Linked DNA regions of Homo sapiens: region 1 is linked to region 2. The links come from fine-mapping of genetic effects on gene expression. A gene starts in region 2. The other region holds a variant in brackets. All regions are shown on one strand. Distances are from middle to middle.

Evidence for each region.
Region 1: its variant is fine-mapped to the expression of LINC02375 in testis (GTEx, PIP above 0.99).

Annotation. Positions count from the first base shown.
Region 1 is chr12:127,319,882-127,330,319 of GRCh38, reverse strand. LINC02375 (long intergenic non-protein coding RNA 2375) reads left to right here. Exons shown (of 3, transcript NR_110057.1): 3 at 5,515-6,165. It also overlaps the pseudogene LOC100420116 and the pseudogene RNU1-104P. Among named protein-coding and RNA genes, the nearest start is that of LINC02375, 15 kb to the left of the region's middle. The variant C/T (reference allele first, on the strand shown) is at 5,542.
Region 2 is chr12:127,334,609-127,345,046 of GRCh38, reverse strand. It overlaps LINC02375 (long intergenic non-protein coding RNA 2375), which reads left to right and starts at 4,975. Exons shown (of 3, transcript NR_110057.1): 1 at 4,975-5,078.

The sequences.
Region 1 (10,438 bases), 15 kb after region 2:
AAATATTATGCTCTAAAGACAACTTTTCATAAATGATATTTATAGGCCATCTTGCAAACGTTAAAAATTAAAATGGCATAAAATGTCTGTTTTCCATTTCCAAGTTCATGTTTTCCTTAACTCTTCTCATAACAGAATTTGCAGCAGTTGATTCTCCTATTTTCTCTTACAGCTCAAGAGAGCATAGAAGGTATCAGAATGGCTGTTTGATTGTAATCTTTACCCTGGTGTGTCTTTCTATCCCCTCCCATACCTCACCCCCATCCAACACACACACACACCCTCACTCTGTGACATCGTGTACAGAGGTCAAATCACCACTGGGAATCCAAGATCTCATATTTACCAGATTTTAGACCCCAGACTTCTTTTGCCTTTGGTTCTTAAGTTTCTTCTCCTGGTCTGTGTCTTCTCTCATAATATATAAAATCACTTTCATTTTTCTTAATGCCATTACCATGATAGCCTTGTGTGAGTCACCTTCTTTGCCTTCTTACGTATACACACACTACTGGTGGTGGTGTACAGAAATGATTGGGTCCCAGAGGAAACAGCTGTGACATATTCATTCACACACTCAGCATCTACTTATTGAACACCTTCTGTGTGCCCAGCACTGTCCTATTAGCAGAGATAGTAGGGAAGAGGAGACAGGTCATGGTCTCAAGCAGATTACCTTCAGGTGGGGAAGAGAGATAAGAAACAACCAGGAGGGTTCCGAGAGTGGTAATTACTGTGAAGGAGTTCATCATATAACAGAGCAATCTGGTGTGATTAATACAGTGTAAGTGACATGATATAAGCAATACGAAGAGTCTAAGTAATGCATCAATGTTGTAAATATAAGTGTGCACAGTAGCACACACAGCAAATTAGATACAGGAAAATAGTGTAATGGAGACAAAGAGTAACCAGAGGAGGGTGCCAAGTTTAAATTAGAAATGGCTCAAGGAATGTATACTGAGGAGTGGCATTTGAGATGAGGTCCTGTATCATTTATAATCCTTTTGGTGGCAAGTAACAAAACCACATAGATCCAGATGGCTTTACCAACAAGAAGGGCATCTCATAGTGGGGAGGTTCCAGGCAGCTGGTCCAGCAGCCCCTCTAGGTCATCAAGTCCCGAGTTCCTCTGTCTTTCTGTCCATCTGAACTCGCAGGGTCAGCCTGGCCCATTTTGGGCTCCCTCAGGGCTCTGGGATCTCTGGGGCAGTTCCTGTCGTCATTTCCTATGCGACAACATCCTGTAGGAGGAGGAGGCACCACTTCCCATGAGTCTCTTTGACCAAGTAGGCCTTTCCCAGAAGCCCTGCCGTGGACTTCTCACAGCTCATTGGCCAGAGTAATAGCACATGCTTTCCCCATAAATCAATCACTGGCAAGGAGGATGGGGGTTTAATTACTGAGTTAGAGGGGCACATGGTGAATGGAGGGTTATCTGAAGAAAACCTTATTACTATTAAAAGAGAGTGTGAGAGTGTGTGTGTGTGTGTGTGTGTGTGAGTTGGGCAGGGGGCTGGTGTGTGGTCACATGGCTACTAAGAAACACTTTTTTTTTTTTTAAGATAATGCATATCCCATAAGAAATAACTCAAATAATAGTCACGCAGAATTGCCAAAGCCTCTCACTTAGTTTCATTTTTCACTTATTTTTCCATGTGGGCTATCTCTCAATTCCTGAAAGCTGAGGCAAATTTAAGTCTGCATGTGCTCTGAAAGAATGCCGAGGGTCACTGCAATGTGATTTCATTTCTTATGTACAGAAAGGGCCTCAAGATTTCTAAAGTCGATATGTTCCTGACAATCGGATGTGATTCAAAATGATTTGAAGTAAAATTGGTGGTGAGGGCGGGGAGCGAGAGGGAGTATATATGGTCAAATCAAAATTTTCCACAAATGCAGGAATGTAGAGGTCTTCTCTACAGGAGATAGGATCAGGAAGTCCTTGTAGTAGGGGACAACCACCAGAACAATGGAGAAGGTGAAGAACTTCCTAATGCATCCATTGCAGCCTTCTTGTTTGTAGCAAGCCCGGCTATTTTCATGGAGGTCTGCATACCACATGCAAAGAGCACATCAAGTCCAGGCAGATTTGGGAAGCTTCTCCGAGGAAGTGACTCGCGCTTAGATAGGCAGAAAGAATAAATGCTGAGCGAATAAAACAACCAAGGCAGTCATGGAAGTGTCTGTTCCAGGAAGAGGGAATCACATGGCCAGAGGCCCTGAGGTTAATAGTTATGGCACAGCCCCTGGAGATACTAAAAGTACCTCCGTGGGGCTGGATCATTGAGTGACCAAAAGAAGGTGGGAGAGGAGATTTGGAAATAGATAGGGCTAATAACGGAGACTGAGTCAGAGATCCTGAAAGCCAAGGGAAACCATCAAAGGGCTGTAAGCAGGAGACGATTAGATCATATTTGCATACACAATCTCTCAAGGAAGAGTAGGGCAGTGTGGGAAGAGGGGATGTGAAGAGAGCAGTTTTGAAGTTGTGGCAAATGTCCAGGTGGGAAGTGATGGAGGTCTGGGCTAGTATAATAGCAGCGAAGAGAAATTCGTAGGCACAAAAGACACCTAGGAGTAAAACCAAGAGAACTTGAAGTGTTGCATGTCGGTGGTGAAGAACATGGGTGGAATTAAAGAAGACATCGTGATGTTCAATTTGTTCTGCTGGATAAAAGGCAATGTTAGTTATTGAGATGGAAGACTGTGCTGTGGGGGAAATAGGAGATCGTGAGTTTGATTTTGTATGTTTGGCCGCTAAGAAACTATTGAGCCTTTCATCTGATGATGTCAAGAGGCACATGCATCTGGAGCTCAGAAGGGAGGTCTGAGCTGTAAATAGACACTTGGGTGAGGAAGAGAAACATCAAGAACAGTCCCAGTTTGCAGCTTGCTAAAGAGGCTGCATGGCGGCACCACTTGCTGAGATGGAGAACTCAGCCAGCAACCAGTCTGACGTTGCACCCGTCAACGATGTGTGTGATCTTGAGCCAGCTATGCCACCTCGCTGGCTTCAGTTTCTTCATCTGTAAAATGACATTGCGGGCCCCTTACAGTTTTATGAATCTGTGGTGAATTGATGGCTTATTTTGCATCCTCCTTCCTCTTTCCTTCTACACACATAAATGCATTTTCCTGATGGTCCAGGAGAGAAATTCAGCAATATTTTAATAGCTTATCTGGAAGATGTGAAGTGAAATGGAGGCTTAAATTGTCTAATACTTAACCTGCCTACTTACGCACGTTAAAGAGGCTAATCCTAAGTCCCGAATAAAGAGAATGTAATGAAATACCACAGTCTCACTTCTTTTCCACAAGATTACAGTTTAATGGGGGCAAAACATTGATATTTCCAGTGCATTTTGTGAATATTTTCTTATCAAGATTTTAATCTAGTGCAAAGCTCTCATGATTAACAAAAAAGTGATCCCCTTTATGGGTTGAATAAAGTGATTTTTTGGTAACACATGGCCACCTTTTATATATTTTCCAATATGGTACAAGAATTTTTGTTTGATTAACAGTAGGTTGAGCAGACCTGTTAAAGAACACACACACACACACACACACACACGCAAACACATATGTGGCAACAAAGCTTATGTTACTTTATGAAATTATATGTATGGTTTTACTTGTCAGTATTTTGTAATACCAAATAGTTTTCTTGGTAAGACAAATACTTTTTAGTATTTGTCACTAATCAGTGCCTACAAATTACCTTTTGTACAAGTCCTGTTCTTCTGGTTGTCTTGGTGTCTTATAAATCAGAACTATTGTGTCTCATGAACTTTCACTATTTTCAATTTTTGCTGGTGCTTTTCCTGTTGATGTATCTCAAGGTTCTACCTCCTCCCCAAAGGTTTCTAGCAACTGTGAATCCATTTTATGAATGGGAAGGAAATGAGGCACATGGTGACCTTCACCTGCAGCACCTTCCCTCTCAGTATGAGGCCACCATCTGGACGCCGAGACTCCTTTGGCAGATTGAGATCTGGAACATGGAGTGAGCTACAACAAGGGCTGGAGAATTTTAGTGGCCTCCAACAGAAGCTGAGAAACCAGAGAGGAGACTGTGGATCTGATGCTCCTGGGACTCAGAACCTTTAGAACTCTTTATAAATGGGATAAAACTGGCTCTCCGGGGCTCAGACCCTAGGAAAGAATAATCCACAATAGTTAACAATGGTCTGGGCTTGGTCAGATGGATCTGACTTGCATATTTACTAGCACTTTGATGTGAAAAAATTAAAATGGGAAGAATAATCGTGTCTATCTCATAGGATGGTTATTAAGTTTAAGTAAAATAATGCAATACTTAGAAGCACTGAGCACAAAACCGGGCCTTTAGACGACAGCTGTAGTTACTTTTATTCTAATTTCCCTATTGTTCTTTCCTGTGTTATTCATTTTCAGCTATTTGTGGATGCCAACCAAAGTCCATAGACTTCAGTACATTGGGTGAGGGTGTGGAGTCTGGAGTCAGACTGCCTGGTGTTACTCCTGGCTCTGACCCTTATACCTGCATGACTCCAGACTTGTTATTTAACTTCTGTTTCTCAGTTTCCTCACCTACAAATTGAGGATGAGAATTATACTTCCTAGTTGTCCAGAGAATTCAATGAAATATATCTGCGAAGCACTTAAAATCATACCTGGCAAAAAGTAAGCACTAAAAAATTATTGAAAATTTCTAGAAATTACTATTGTATTATTGCAAGTATGCTAAAATACTGAATCAAATATATTCCTGATGTATTATAGATCAAACATAGCACAGGTTTTTTCCAGCTTACTTGGTAGTCCACAGTGGGCATTCCTGAGTATGAGGTAACTCTCCTCAATGGCTGCAGAGCCCCAGAGGCCCCAAGAGCCTTCCATCCTCAGGCTCTGCCATCATCTTGGGCTTTATCGTTGTCTGGGTCTGGTAAAGAGAGCATGGAGGAGGCAAAACTACTTCTTAAAATCTTTTGGTCCAGAGGCAGCAGGAATTACATGAATTATTTTTATATTTCTCCAATTCTATCGGTTAACATGTCTCATGTGACTATGTCTACATGCACGGGGTGCTAGGGAATGTAAGCCAAAGCAAGGCAGCACATTTGGCAAAGGAGGCCCATTTAAAAACAAACAATAAACAAAAAAGCACTCAAATTATAGATAGATGATCATACCTATGACAGAACAGCTACCTCTCCACCAAAATCATTCTTCCTCTTCCTTGTCTTGGGTAAGAACAAGGAGAAGAAAAAGAAGATGATGAAGATGGAGGAGGAGGAAGGGAAAGAGTAAGAAGGGGGAATGAGAAGAAAGGAGAAAGAGGAGGAGACAGAAGAGGAACTAACTGATGGTGTCGTTAAAGACCTTTTGAGACTTCATCGGCCACTGAGAAGAAGGTGGCATTTGAGGGTTATGGGGCCTGATCAGCCTCAAGCAGGTTATTTATATCATGCTTTGGCTTCTTTCCAGATCACCAGTGTTTGTTTCAGTGATGTTTTCTTTTTCTTGCAGAGGACAGAAGCCCAAAACTAAGCTGTA[C/T]AGTCAAAAACGTCTAGCTGTTTCTTGTAGCAGATTGTGCCAGTAAGCGTCACTGAAGAGTAATTTCAAGGGCTGGTGAAAATATAAGATAAAACACTGATTACAGGATGACAGGTTTTCTCTGCTCAACAATCTTTGAATTATTCAGAAAACTTTGCTTCCAGAGTGGTATATTAATAATACACCTAAGCAAATATTTTGTTGCTTAAGCTGAAAGGCATTTTCTCCTTGAAGGGAAAGCTTCTGAAGATGGCAGTAGATTAACATACCCAAATATCTTGATATCCTCAATAGGAAGAAAGTCAAGTTAAGTTTCCTGATCTAAAGAGTCCAGGAAATTAAATTCTCTCTATGTTCTGTTTCTGAAGTACTGCAGAAACTGCTCAAGATGGAAGGATACCAGAGAAGAAAAACATTGCTCAATGTTTAAAACTTATTTTATTTTTTGAAAAAAGAAACATAATAACTTAGTCCAAAATCAAACAACATAAAAAGTATACATTGAAAAGTTTATCCTCACCCTATCTACTTCCAGCAATTTCCTTCCAATTCTATCTGTAGTATTTTTTCATTTTTCTTCTTGTTTTTTTTAAATAAAATAAAATAAAATAATAATGCACACTATTATACCTTTTCCTTTTTCATTCTTGCACTGAATGGAGTACGCTGTATACACCATGCTGCTCTTGTTCGGTTTTCTCATTCCACAGTAAATCCCGGAGGCTTTCCATGCCACGGCCTAGAAAGCAACCTCATTATTTCACAGCCACTGTGTGTTCCAGGGTGGGTTTGTTCCTTAGGTGTTCCTGAGCATTTTATTCCACTTTTCCTGTTAAAAGCTTGCTTTCCCTTTACCCCACTCAAAGCAAAACACAGTCATGTCACTGAGATGTGGTCCGCCCTTCACCGTTTCCAAATTGCTCTGATTTGATGCTTAGATAGTAGCTTTGTGAAGCTGAGAATGAATACCCTCTATTCCAGATGCAGAGCCTGAGGCTCAGAGGAATCCTACCATGCCTGAGGTGTCTGCATCCAGTGGCAGAGGCAACTACAAAGCTCCCCTAACCTCCCCACACCACCACCATGCCTCTGCTCTCAGGGACATCACAGGAAGGACCCAAGTAGCTGATGGTCCCTCTGTTGGCAGCTTCTTCAATCCCCCCTCACACGCAAGGAACTTGAACTGAGATATCATCCATGCTGTTTAATTCCTGGATGGTTTTGAGTAGGAGATCAGGCCTTTCACACACGTGATTCTACTTGCTTTGGTTCAAGATTCTATTAATAATAGAATGGGCAGGAAACCACATTGCAAGGTCAGCTCTTCAGGTTAAAAATAGTGAGTTTGCCAATATTCAGCCTTCCAAGAAAAGGGGAGAATAGAAGTGAGGAACCCATTAAACACACATGAAATTATAACTATTATTATGTTTTAATATTTTTGTAATATCTCCCTCCCGTTTTCTAAAATATAAGCTTCCCAGGCACAGAGGACAAATCTGTTTCACTCACTACTGCTTCCCCAGAGCATAGAACCTGGCCTGGCACTCAGTAGGGCTCATGGAAAATATCTATTGATCAGTTCATGATAAAGAGGAGGAAGCAAAGTTCTTTGGGCCTTCAAGAAGAATGTTTGCTGGATCCGGGTGGCAGCCCACAGACGCCAGGAGTGCCCTGCACATATATGGGGCTGGGAGGACAGCACGGGTCTCCATCACCCTCTCTTGGGACCACCTGTGTCCGTGCACCTCTTTTCATATTCCTGTTGCCTGTACATTGCAGCCAGAGCCCTGAAGCTGTGCTTCCTCCCTGGGCTGGGCCGTGGTAGGTGGGGAATGGGTTGTATGAGAGTTTTTGCTCCACATCTCTCATCTCTCTCTATTGCCATCTATACCTGGTAACTGAAAAATGGCATGCCTTTCCTGGGTTAGAAGAAGTAATTAAAAGTAATTTTTCATTGCTGGTTACTGAACAGGAAGCCTCTAAGTCCATTAATGAAACAGAGAGGGAAGTCTGGTTTGTACGAATGAAGCTTTCGCCTCTAAAGGCAAAGGAACCACTGAGAATGGCACATTTGGAGGAAGATTGTGCACATTTTGCTTTTTAAGATGGATGTCACACTGCAAAAATATCACAACAATGCAAGATAGTTAAAATAGTTAAACATATTTTTAAGTGTATTTCCGCCTAGTGCTATAGGCCTTGGAGATGCAAAGGTGAATAAAAGTGACATAGAGTTCACAGGTGTCTACAGAGTTAGGGTACAAAACAAAGATATGATATTGAATATGGTATAATATGTCTTAAAATAGACCTCTGATATGATTTGGCTGTGTCCCTACCCAAATCTCATCTTGAATTGTAGCTCTCATAATTCCCACGTGTTGTGGGAGGGATCCAGTGGGAGGTAATTGAATCATAGGGGTGGGTCTTTCCTGTGCTGTTCTCATGATAGTGGAGAAGTCTCATGAGATCTGGTAGTTTTATAAAGGGGAGATCTGGTCTCATGAGATCTGGTTTTATAAAGGGGAGTTCCCCTACATAAGATCTCTTGCCTGCTGCCATGTGAGATGTGACTTTGCTCTTCCTTCACCTTCTGCCATGATTGTGAGGACTCTCTGGCCACACAGCCATGGAACTGTGTGTCGATTAAACCTCTTTTCTTTATAAATTACCCAGTCTTGGCTATATCTTTATTAGCAGAATCAGAACAGACTAATCCAACCTGTTTTACTTCCATTTATATGGCAGCTCTAAAACTTCATTTATCCACGTACCACTTTCAAGATACTTCCTTTTTCAAATGCCACCTTTATTATTGTTCCTGTTAAGCTCTTTAATCCTTACTTAAATTAGGGTGCTTCATCTTACTGACACACAAAAAATAGTACAATCCACCATGTAGTAAAAAGTCAAATAAAAATGAATTTGGAAAAAATAAACTGATACTATTAAAAATCTGAGTAGATACTATGGTCTGCCTATGTCTATGAGTTTGTCTTTATTAACTAATGAAGAACAGCAAGGGTCAGAGAACTGTTGAAGACATTCCAGCACTGAACAGAGAATTTCTCCTAATATCATGGAAAGGATTGAGCTCATAACTTTTCCTTCTGTTTTTAAATGCTATGTTCCTGCTACCTATAATTTTTTCATTGAAAATTATTTGTTTTACCCATTGAAATATTCACCTTGCACTTTGGGAAACCCAAATTGCTCTTACTATGCTGGCGAAAATTTTCCTATCACTTAGAGCTGCAGCTCTAAGGAAGGAAGAAAGAAGCCATGATTGGCAACAGGAAAGACACATTTCAGATGTTTTAGCAGTAATACAAGTAAATGGTTCTCGAAGTGTGCAATAGACAAGCCTCGCCCTGGGAAAACCACCTTCATGATCATGGTATCTTCCCTTCCAGGTAAGTGTAATTCTCAGACCTTACAGGGAGGCAGAACAGCATATTGTAAAGAAGTTGGGTTTCAAAAGTGAAATGGAGCTGGATCCCAATGTGCTAATTCACAATTATCTGGGCCACCCATAAGCCTCTCTGAGCCTTGGTTTCTTCATGCAAAAATAAGGATGTATTTCATACCTGTTGAGAAGACGAATGGATTTAGCTATAGAAAGGAAGAGGTCACAACAGGTGGTCTACGTGGGCACAGACCCTGCTTCTGCAGATGACCAGCTGTGTGGCCCTGGATGGGTGGCCTCTCTCTGCCATGCCTTGGTTTCCTTATCGGTAATATCAGAGAAATAATTCAACCACACTCTTTGAAGTTCTGTGAAGCTTACGTGGGTTGAACATGCATGGCTGTCCTGTGCTGCTGGGGAAGTTGATGTCAGCTCTCTTTCTCCCATGAGCACATGCAGCAGGGCACCCAACAGGTCTCACTCAGGACCCATGAGTCACTCCTCTTTCTCCCCTGCCACAATCCCCAGCTACTAAACACACAGACTAGGCAGTGGCAACCAAACAAAGTGTTCTCATAAAGGGACACAGGACAGCTACTTCTTGAGGGGAAGTTTCTGGAGTTGCAGAGCCAGAGAGGCTGTTTCAGGGTGGGTTCTGGACAGGTGAAGGTCAGAGTAGAGCATGTGCCAGAGTGAGAGGAAGGGCTGGAACCCCGAGGAAGGAAGAGAGAAACCAAGATAGGCAACACGAGAGACACATTTCAGATGTCTTAGCAGTAATACAAGTAGCTTAGCTCAGAGAGCAGTGATTTTTGATTAGGGCAGGATGGTGGATGGAGGGGGTCCTCTGGCAACCTTAGGACCATAAGCTCAGGAAGCTGCTTCTGTACAGACTAGAAGGCCTCTGCCAACAAAGGTGATGGTGCAGCAGCCCACACAATGATCATTACTGTCCCATAGTAAACATCTACCTGCCTGCTGGATGGACTATGAGCAGAAGAGATATGAACACCATTCCTTTAAACAGTTTATTGCAATTCTGCAATTTTTGAAACATTAATCCCAGTTGATGGGAAAATGTTATTCTTTGAGCATTCAGTATTTCTAAATGGGCTGTTTTGAGTTATTGTCCCTTAATTAAATGAAGTTCTCAGAAAATGTACTGTTATTGTTATCATATATTTTTACCAATAAGGAAAGAAAATGGACCAAGATGATACTTTCTGAACTCCCTTTTAAATTGGCAAGTGTAATGGAATCGTAGCATAACACTTTCCTAAGGAATTCCCACAAGCATATGCATTGAGCTGAGGGCTGGGAGAGCACTTTGTTGGGAGCCCTAAGTTAAGGGATTCATGGTGCTTATGAGGAACAGAGATGCATGAGCCTCCTCGCCTACATTTCAGGTCTTCTTGCCACTCTTGGACTCCATCCTGGCTGAGAAGACGGTGATTGTCCTGGATGACTGAGTCACCATCGCAGAGCTGG
Region 2 (10,438 bases):
CATGATAAAAACTACAGAACCCCGAAGAGATCATCAGAGGAAGAAATAAACTAACCACTTTGTATGTAGAAGTACCTGGGTTTGGAGGGAGATCTCTGGGGGTTCTGGAGGTGTCAAGGAGATGGGGTGTGGCAGTCAGCTTGGGTGTGCAGAGATTTGTAATGTTCGACTAGTGCTCTTTTGTTGTTTCTGCTGTTGTCTTTCCTAATTTAAAAACACAATGAAGTCTATGTTCACTATGTTAATAAGTCCAGAAAATAGGTAGTCACTTCCCAAATGATCCTTGAGCCAAGATTTGAAAATACTGAAAGGAACTCGTGTGCTATGTGTGAGTCTGTGAGACAGAGGGCGGCGGGGGGTGGAGTAAGGGAGAGGAGGTCAGGGAGAGGGAGAATGACCCTGCACCTGGGTACTGAGAAGACATTCCAACCAACCATCAGGTTTGATATCTCAGTCTGGGATGGAATGCCATCCAATTGTTTGGAAACTTCCATTTTGTGTGTGCTTCGTGGCTTCATCCCTCTGGACAACTGTCTAAATTACAGAATGAGAATGAAGGCAGTAGGGAGCTTGGTGGACACCCCTCTCCCTCTTGCCCCGGTGGTGTGCGCATTTGCTGATCTGAGCCCTCTCCTCTCCTGTTTAGGACACTGAGGTTTTGAACACTGCCATTCTCACTGGAAAGCCTGTTTCAGTTCCTGTCAAAGTCGTGAGGGTCCAGGAGGATGGTTCTGTGGTCTATGTGTCTGAGTCTGTGGAATGCAAGTCTGCCAATGAAGATGTCATTAAGGTAAGGGGAGATTTATCTACAGAAGTCCTAAGTGTTCAGAGCTTTTTGTCGTTCCTTCTTTTGTCTCCAAGGTGTGGTTCTGACTGAGCATCCCATGCTCTAAAGGGCTGGAAACCAGAATGACCTCATGAAGGAGGAAACAGCTGACCGCAGAGACTCCCTGGAATCAGCAGGCGGCTGCAGCAGGCGATGCTGCTTCCCTCTCCCTTGAAAGGGGAATCCCTGACCTTTAATCTCCAGCAAAAAGAATTCCCTCCCTCCCTTCTATGTTCCTTCCTTCCCTCACTCCCTATATGCATGAAACTCAATGACTATTAAAAAACATTCATCCATGTGACAACTAACCTAATATAATATTATCCACTGGTTAATCCTTATATTAGGTTAATCAAAATTGAGGAAATTGAGCCATGGTACATTTCTGCTGCTTTTTTTTATTATTATTCCAATTAGCTGGATTTATGGTCCTAAATTCAGCCAGAAATCATCCCATTTTTGTTTTCTTGTTCTTTGCAGGTGTCTGAACAACCCAATTTAGTGTTCCCACCTATTTTCTTTTTTTTCTAACAAAGACCTCATGGAGAAAGGATTTAAAATTTTAGAATCATCTTTTCTCCTTTAAGTTGCTAAGAGAACCTCCAGGTTCAATCTATTCATTCATTTTAGATAAATACAATAATGCTAAGCTAAGTCCTTCATGCCATTCCACTGGCTCCTGTTTAGAGGTTCAGTGAAACTTGGTTTCAGTCTTAAGAACTTCATGGTAGGCAGAAAAGCCTTTAGGGTATTCTCCCATGGTAGAGCAGATCTGAGAGCAGTTGATTTGTTCATGTTTTAGATCACAGCTTGGTGAAGGCTTCCAGGGAGGCTGTGCCTTAAGCCAGATATGGTTTCCATAAAGAAACAATGCTGTTTCTGTGAAGTATAATTTTTAAAATAATAATGATAATAATCCTGAGGAAACAGAAATTTTATACAGTCTGTTTCCTGGGCTTGGGAAGTTAATTTTTCCTGAGATAGAAGGCGAAATAGCTTAACAACTTTATGCAGCCCTGTGCTGAGGCTCCTGGCAGGTTTAATTAAACAAATCAAGGGCCTTAAATATTTGGAGTTTAAAACGGTCTGAGCCAAGTCACAGGCAATCATCTGCTCAGGAACAAAATAAAATTGATGACTCATTTTCCTCGGTTGCCTCTGACGATATTCATTATTTAGCGTTGCCATAGCATTCATTATTACCAAAGGAGCCAAGAATTGTGGTGTTTAGAGAAAGACTGTATCTGCAGGCTGATGCTACTATGGACCAAACAAATGACTTGCCTCTGCAGGTCCTCTCCAGAGAGCCTGGTGTGGAGCCCCACAAGGTAGAGACCTCAATCTCTTGCCCTCGAGATTCCACCCTAAGAGAGGCAAATCCAAGCTCTTGGAGAGTTGGATTCCATTATGCACTGTACTTAATTGTCTCCATTCTACAGAAACATACTGAATACCCTCTCCCCAACCTGACAGATACGTCACTTTGGAAAACAGGAGTTATGTGCTGCATGGTCACTGTTGTAGCTACCTGAATATGGGAATTTCTTGACAGAAAACTGAAGCTTGATCTCCAGGAGAACATACTGAGTTTGCAAATCACCAAACATGGAGGCTGCTTCATCACCATTCTAGGTCCAGGTTCTGTTCAACTCCTGGCCTGTATAAATTGAGGGGACTTAATAAATCAGATGTATTGTAGTTTTCCAAGGTGTACTGCCCATATTAATGATGCATGTTGCCAGGACTCCTCGAGGAATGGACTCATCCTCAAAGATGTGCTTTCCTTAGCGTTGACTTTGTGATATGCCAGGTCATTGAGGACAGTGTGAACCCTCAGTAGCACCTTTTGGAGCACTCCCCAGTCTGTGGAATTTTCACTCATGTCAGTTCAGGAAATGCCGAGCAATCCCCAAGGAGGATACTCCACAGATAGCAAGGATCTTATGGAGCTTCTGCAAGAAAAGTGTGGACTGAGGAAATTCTGTGGATTGGGATATAGGGAAGGGAGAAAGTGTGAATTTGGAAAAATGAAAACTGTGGTGATATGAAGAGAATATCAGCATTTGTGAACTCAAAAGTATCTGAGACAGATCTCAATCAATTTAGAAAGTTTATTTTGCCAAAGTTAGGGATGCTCCCAGTGCCTAAGGTTGGCGAGGTACGGCTTGCTTTTATGCTTTTTAGGGAGGCATAATACATCAATCAATACCTAGAAGATGTACATTGGTTAGATCTGGAAAGGCAGGGCAATGGCAACTCGAAGTCAAGGGAGGGGGGCCAAGTTATAGGTAGATTTAAAATGTTCTAATTGGCAATTGTTTGAAAGAGTAGAGACGGGGTTTCACCATATTGCCCAGGCTGGTCTGTTGGCCAGGCTGGTCTCGAACTCCTGATCTCATGATCTGCCCGCCTCGGCCTCCCAAAGTGCTGGGATTACAGGCGTGAACCACCGCGCCCAGCCATGTTCATCCGTCTGGTCCCACCCTGCCCTCCCTCGCCTGCCCTGGCCATCCTAAAGACCTAAAACCATAAAAAAAGAAAACCTAGGCAATACCATTCAGGACATAGGCATGGGCAAAGACTTCATATCTAAAACACCAAAAGCAATGGCAACCTGAAATCAACAGAAAGGAATGTCTGGTTACTATGATAAGGAATAGAGGAGTCAAAGATTTGTCATGAAGATGAAGCCTGCAGGTATCAAGCTTCGAAAATAATAGATTATAAATGTTTCTTATCAGACTTAAGGTTTGTGTTGATGTTAATGCTGGTCAGCTTTTCCTGAATTCCAAAAGGGAGGAGGGTATCACAAGGCATGTCTGACCTGCTTCCCTATGGCCTGAACCAACTTTGGGATGCCCTTGGCTGAGGAGAGGGGTCCATTCAGATGATTTCAGGGCCTTAGGATTTTATTTTTGGCTTGCACTTTTTTTTTTTTTTTTTTTTTTGAGACAGAGTCTTGCTCTGTTGCCAAGCTGGAGTGCAGTGGTGCGATCTGGGCTCACTGCAACCTCTGCCTCCTGGGTTCAAGTGTTTCTCCTGCCTCAGCCTCCTGAGTAGCTGGGACCACGGCCACATGCCACCACGTGTATTTTTAATAGAGACGGGGTTTCACCATGTTGGCCATATTCTTTCTGAAGCTTGCTACCTGCAGGCTTCATCTGTATGATAAATCTTTGGACTCTCTACTCCTTATCATAGTAACCCAGACATTCCTTTCTGTTGATTTCAGGTCTTCAGCATTAACATCTCCATCTCTTGAACTAGTGATCTGCCCACCTCGGACTCCCAAAGTGCTGGGATTATAGGTGTGAGCCACCGCGCTGGGCCTTGGCTTGCAGTTTTGATCTCAGGATTGGTATGACTTTGGAGAAGACAGAGGACACAATTGTTAAAGAGTCCAGAATCTGGGAGAATAAAATAATTTTCAGAGACTGGAACCTCAACCTAGTCTGGCAGGTGGAAGAAGGATAAAAAGTTCTACTCTTAGTTTAAGAAAGTTTTCATTAATTTCAAAATATGCAGCATAACAGCAACATCTGTGTGAAAAAATCTTGGCATCTTTATAAATAGTAAGAGCCAATGAATCAAATGAAGAGGTCGCCATGAGGCTGATGTGATCTTCGTCAGCATTAGTCAGAGCATGGTCCCAGCACAGGCAACGCTGCTGTACTTCATGCCAAATCTGGTCCAGAAGGGTTGTGTGTGTGTGTTTGACTTTTTAAAATTTGAATCCATTTCCAGCATGCAAACATTGTTAATTTCACATCTGGATTCCGAGCTCCTCTTGAAACACCATGTGGTCAGGTTGTCCTGCGCCCATACTCCTGCCGGTCATCATCATCTGGAGTGGACCAGTTGTCTACAGAGGCTCTCCACTCCCCACCACTCCAACTCACTGTAATCTCCACCACTCCCTCTCGCCTTCCACACTGAGGGTGAGGGGCTCTTGTCATTTCTTGTCACATTTGTGCTACTGGCTTTCTGACAGTAGATTTCAGAGTGATGTGAGATATTTCTTTTACACTGGTCTCCATCAAAAATGAGCAACAGATGATAGCCCTCACTCTGTCACTCCAACAGAGAATTCTTTCTAGGTCATAAACAGAACAATGGGAAGTCAGATTGTGTTCTGCTGAAGAGTGTCCATGGGCTGAAGGCTTTTGAAATCAAATCACAGTAGAATTGCCTGAAGGAAGTGAGAGTGTATAGCCTGATGCCGAGAAGAAAAAGCCTGGGGGTAACATACAGAGTGAGAACTGACAGCTCTTTTTAAGTCTTTCAAGGGCCATCATGTGGAAGATGGAGTAGGTTTGTGCTTTTTATATTTCAACAGGGGAAGTTAAAAAGGAACCACTTTTAGCTTACTTTAAGGAAAAAGAATGCAGAGCCACTGAATTCTTTGGTTAAGCTTTCAGACAGATAATGTTGGTCCGAATCCTGGTTCTATCTTCTATGTATTTGATCTTGGGAAAAATTACTTAAATTTCCCCAAGCCCAGTTTCCTCATTTGTAAAATGGGAATGACAATGCTGAGGCGCGGAGCTACCCTTTCTAGAGATCTGTTCTAATGACAGTCCATGAAGCAGAACTGACACTCATCCAAGAAATCTTTGAAAGTGTTTTGGAGAACATCTAGGCTTTTAGAGGTTCCCAGGCCAATTGGTTTTTGTCTTTGCTTTAATTTCTTCTTGTATTTGACCCATGTGCAAATTTTATGGGGCAGTATATGGTCCTCACCATACACTGGTTTTACAGGCAGTATTGAATGGAGTCATAGATAAGAAAGATTTGGAGGAAGACAATGAAGTTAAGTTAAATTTTTCCCTCTCTATTTTATTCTTCTCTCTTTCATGTCTTCTGATAATAAACTGTTGTCAGGTGGAAATCTACAGAGAGGCTGAGCACTGATAAATAAATTATAATTAACTAGTTTAAATGTCGTATGATGCAATACCAGTGAAATTTGGGAGAGAATGAAATGATGTTTGTAAAAGGGTCACACAGTGCTTGACCTCCACTACATCAGTAAATACTACATATACATCTATGTTACATCCATATTCGTATCTTCACCTCTATCTTCTAACCTCTACTTGACTGTAGGACCCACGGAGTCTGGGCTATGTCCCTTTACTAATCACGTGTCCTCTGTGCTTGCACAGTGCCTGATATATATATGGTGCTCAATCAGTACTTTGAACATAGGAATGAATGAATCCAGAGGTGAAATAAACCCTAAGAGTGGCTGTCCAATCTTTGTTGGACAATCCCGAGCGGACTTAACATCACTGAAAATCTTCAAAAAGAGGCAGAAGGGCTTATGTGTCAAACAGATTTGGCAATGGGTGGAGACTTGGACCTGAGTTCTAAGATCCTGTGAACCAAGTCTTCCCTTGATCTTACTGAGTGATTTTAATCTAGATATACTGATTGAACATATATAATGTATAGGAAAGTGTATAAAATGTTGTGCGAGTCACAAAGATGGAATGGATATGGTTTCTGCCGTTGGGAGCTTACACTCTAATGAATATTGATAGCTAACACTGATTGAACAGTGAATATTGATAGCTAACACTTATTATGTGCCAGCTGCTACAAGTGTTGATCCATTTAATTCTCATAACAGTCCTTTGAGGTAGAAAATACCACCTTTCACAGTCCATAGATAAGGAGATGTAGATGGAGGTGTAGATGGTTTAATTAAAGTCATCTAAGGCCACTCAGCTAGTGAGTGTAGCAATCATATATTCAATCTGAAAAGACTGGCTCCAGAGCCTGTAATCTTAACCATGGAGAATTATTGAGCTGTTATTCCTTGTAGTTGTGCAGGACATACTTAGGGGAGGTTCTTATGAGCTAGTATCAAAATGCCATCCCTATGGTCCCCATCAGAGGAATCAGTTGGTAGTGGACTTGTTCCAAAGTATTTGTAAAATACTTTGTTAAAAAAATAGCAGGAAGACATGTTTTCCTAGCTTTCTCAAGTTTCTTTGTACATCTTCACAGGAAGGACAGAAAATGTGGTTTTTAGAGTAAGATTCTCTTGTAATCTTTGGGGATCTATCTTTCTAATATGTGGGCTCCTGTTTTTATTGGATTAGTAATTGTATTTTTGTCAATGAATGATGGTTCCCAGAACCCCAGAAGTCCATCATGCATCATCAACAGGAGATGAGCATCTTTATTCTTGGAAAGAAAAAAAAACATAGAATCATGCTGGTCTCAAAGATGGTGCCCTCCTTTTTACCCTGCAGTAATTCAGTTTCTCAGCTTCCAGCGTCAGCTGGACTAGCAATGAGGAGATTCTAGAGGGCTAGTAAAAGGACATTAGTGTGCAAAAGCCTTCCTATCCCCAGGGAGACATCTTGTTTTCAAACTTAGCCTTCCAGTGGTTAAGGCAGAATATCTTCTGATGGATGAGCTCTCAAGGAAATCTAAGGTTCTCCTGCTGCTTGTTTGGCAGTGTGTGGAAAGCTGGTTACTAAATAGAACCCAATGTCACCTCTGGTGAAGATCAGCAGTTTTGATAGAGCAGCTGCATTTCCGGAGCTAATTTTCAGCAGCTACAAAAGGGCTCTGTGATGAGGTTTCCTCAAGTTTTTAAATTTTCAGATTAAAATATGGAAGGAAATATATTTTTTTTGAATTAGTCCTTTAGAGAGGCACATTTGAACTGCGGTCATTGAGCTAAAGGAATCATTATTCAGGTGGAACAGAGTAGGACAGGTGTGATAGGTAGTGAGATCTGGCAGGGATAACCTGAATTCCCTCACTAGCTATTTGTGGGCATTCTGTTTGCCTGTTTGCAAATAACAGAAATCCAAATATAACTTGCTTGAGCCACTGAAGGAAAGTGTAGTGGGCAAGTAACTAGAAGAGGTAATAATGACTTTAAGTTGGATCCAAAGGCTCCTTAGGATTTGGTTACTCTCCATCTCTTATTTCTGATATCCCCATATGTTGTCTTTATTCTCAGATGGATTATTTCTATATAGTCACCCGCAGCAGCTAAGAGGTTTACATCATTTCACATTCAGGTTCACAAAAAGGAAGATTCTGTTCTCTAGTGCTTCCAACAATATTTCCAGGTTTAAAGAACACTGGGTCTCATGCCCATGACCATTTTTGATCTGGTAGAACTGTGGCCATATAATAAAATAGGTGGATTGGCCATGCCTGGGTCATGTACCCACCTCTGCAGCTGGAGGTGGGATTGGCTTAACTTGAAGCACATGGTCAAGGAGTGAGGATTGATTCTACAGGAAAATTTTCATCTTCCATGAGATGCTCCCTGTACTGTCAAAACACTAGGACCTACTTAGGTCTCAAAATAAGATGAGGTTTTGTTCATGGTTTTCCCATGCTCATGCTATTCCCTGCACTGGGAATCCTGTTCCCACTCCTTCACCTGGATACCTCCCAGTCACCCTGAGACTTGGCTAAAGTGCTCCCTGTTCTGTGCAGCCACCTTCCTGTTGCTCTCCCTGCCAAGGAATCTCACCTCTGTGTTTCCATTGTCCTGTACAGACACATTAGGGACTCAGCACTTTGTATGTCTTTGTGCATGTTGATGCATGTGCCCCTTGGAGGTAGGTGCCATGCCTTGTAAATATTTCTATCCCCATGGTCTATTCAAATACAGTAATAGCAACAAGGACAACACCGTCATTACAACACCCAGTGGTACTGTGCCAGAACTTGTTCTACTTTGTAAAAATACATTACAACATTCAATCTGTACAGCCTTCCATGAAGTAGATGTATTATCCCATTTTTCAGCTCAGGAAACTGAAGCACAGAAAGGATTTTAAGTGTGTGTACTCAGTATATTTTGAATAATAAACATTAGTCTATTACATGTCCAAATTCACAGTACCTAAAAATGGACAAAAAGTTCCTTCTTACTGCTATCTCATTTAAAAACAGATGTTTCTGGAAATGTAGATTTTATGCAAGATTTTTGACTTGAAAATCTCATTCAATTGAATAACATTGTGTGTTTGGCAATGTATAGAGAACTGGTTACCTTTTTAGTTGGAAAGGGCCTATGAATACATTCTGCCTGGGGACTGTCAGTCTGATCTACCCCAAAAGTTGTGCACTGTAGGATCAGGTAAACAAAATAGAAGCTAGAGGCTCAGCCACAGGCAAGGGTGGAATTGAGAGTGTTTCTGAGGAATCCACAGGTATTGATGAAGAGAAAGAAATGGGTTCAGAACAGACTCTTTGCACTGGCTTATCTGGAAAAGGTCCTTGTCTTCTATGGGCTTCCAAAGAAACCCTCTGACTGATTTGAATTTTATTTGGAAGAACATATAGAAAAACTCGAAAGAAGTTTCAGGCTATTTCTTCTTTTTCCTTTAGCAATGATTGGCAAAAATTCCTACAAAAAAACACTGTCATTCTATTTCTGTGCATAGATTTCTTTCCTTTGCTCATCACTAGGAGCCAGACAGCTAAGAATAAGTTGTCAGGCAGTTTGGATGTTATTGCTTAATTTTGTCCTTTATGCTGGTAATTTGGAATTTTATTGTTCCATTCTAATTAGATATGTGCCATGTTTTTCCTGTTGGCCAGGAAAAAATATTGCTGCATTCTCAACCTTTTGTTCCTGTCAGCTTCACTATGATTCCAATATTAATTAGATTGTTTGTTAATTTCTGTCTTTGGCATCTCTAATTAAGAACTAACAATCTGGAATTGTTTCTGCATAATTCAGGGAAACCTTGGAATGAGCCAGTGTAAACCTGCATGCCTCCCAGCTCCACCTGCCCAGTAAACATGGCCATGTGCTTCCTTCCCTCCTCCCCTGGAAGCCTTTCATCTGCTCTTTCCTCAAGGCCCTAGAGTCTTGTGTTTCTCAGAGCCATATTTGTTTTGTGTATATTAGGAGAGAAGGTGACTCTCATTGATGTTTTGGGGCTTGGTTCACACTTTAAACTCCTGCCATGCAGCTTTGATGGTGGGCAGGGAACATCAATTCTCTTTACCATAAAGAAGAACTGCTTTGTGGAATTGGGACTTGTTAATGAGTCAGAGCAGCAGAGATAAGACATACGTGGCTCTCAATCCTAGCATGTGCCCATGGCAGACATCACTAATCAATACCAGCACTCCTTCCTGCTAAACCCTAGATTCTCTCCCAAGCAGAGCTCCTTTGAGCCACAACTATAAATTGACTTGCCTTGGCCAGTGAGATGAACTTATTTCCTATTTCTAGTAGACCTTCTCACAGCCAGCAGAAGTTTTTAATAAGGATTGAAACATGATGTCAATGAGGCAAAGGTATGTATGAGGAAGTCTGATATACTGGAGGAAAACAAAGAGAACTCTTTTCTGTTATGATTCTGGAGCAAGTGATAGGGAAGTCTTTGTATTTGCTTTTCCCCTTTTCTCGTCTCAAAGACAAAAACTCAGCTGCTGATTTTTACACTTTGATTTCACAATTCACAGCATTCTTTTTATAAAAGTTTCTTTTCTAAAATAAATTTTCATAAGTAGTTTTAAAACAAGTTTGGAAAACACACACCCTGCTTTCTACCCTGAGAATATGCTTATCCTGCCAAAGTGTTTATCTTTTCTTTGACTAATTTATGTGCAAATCCT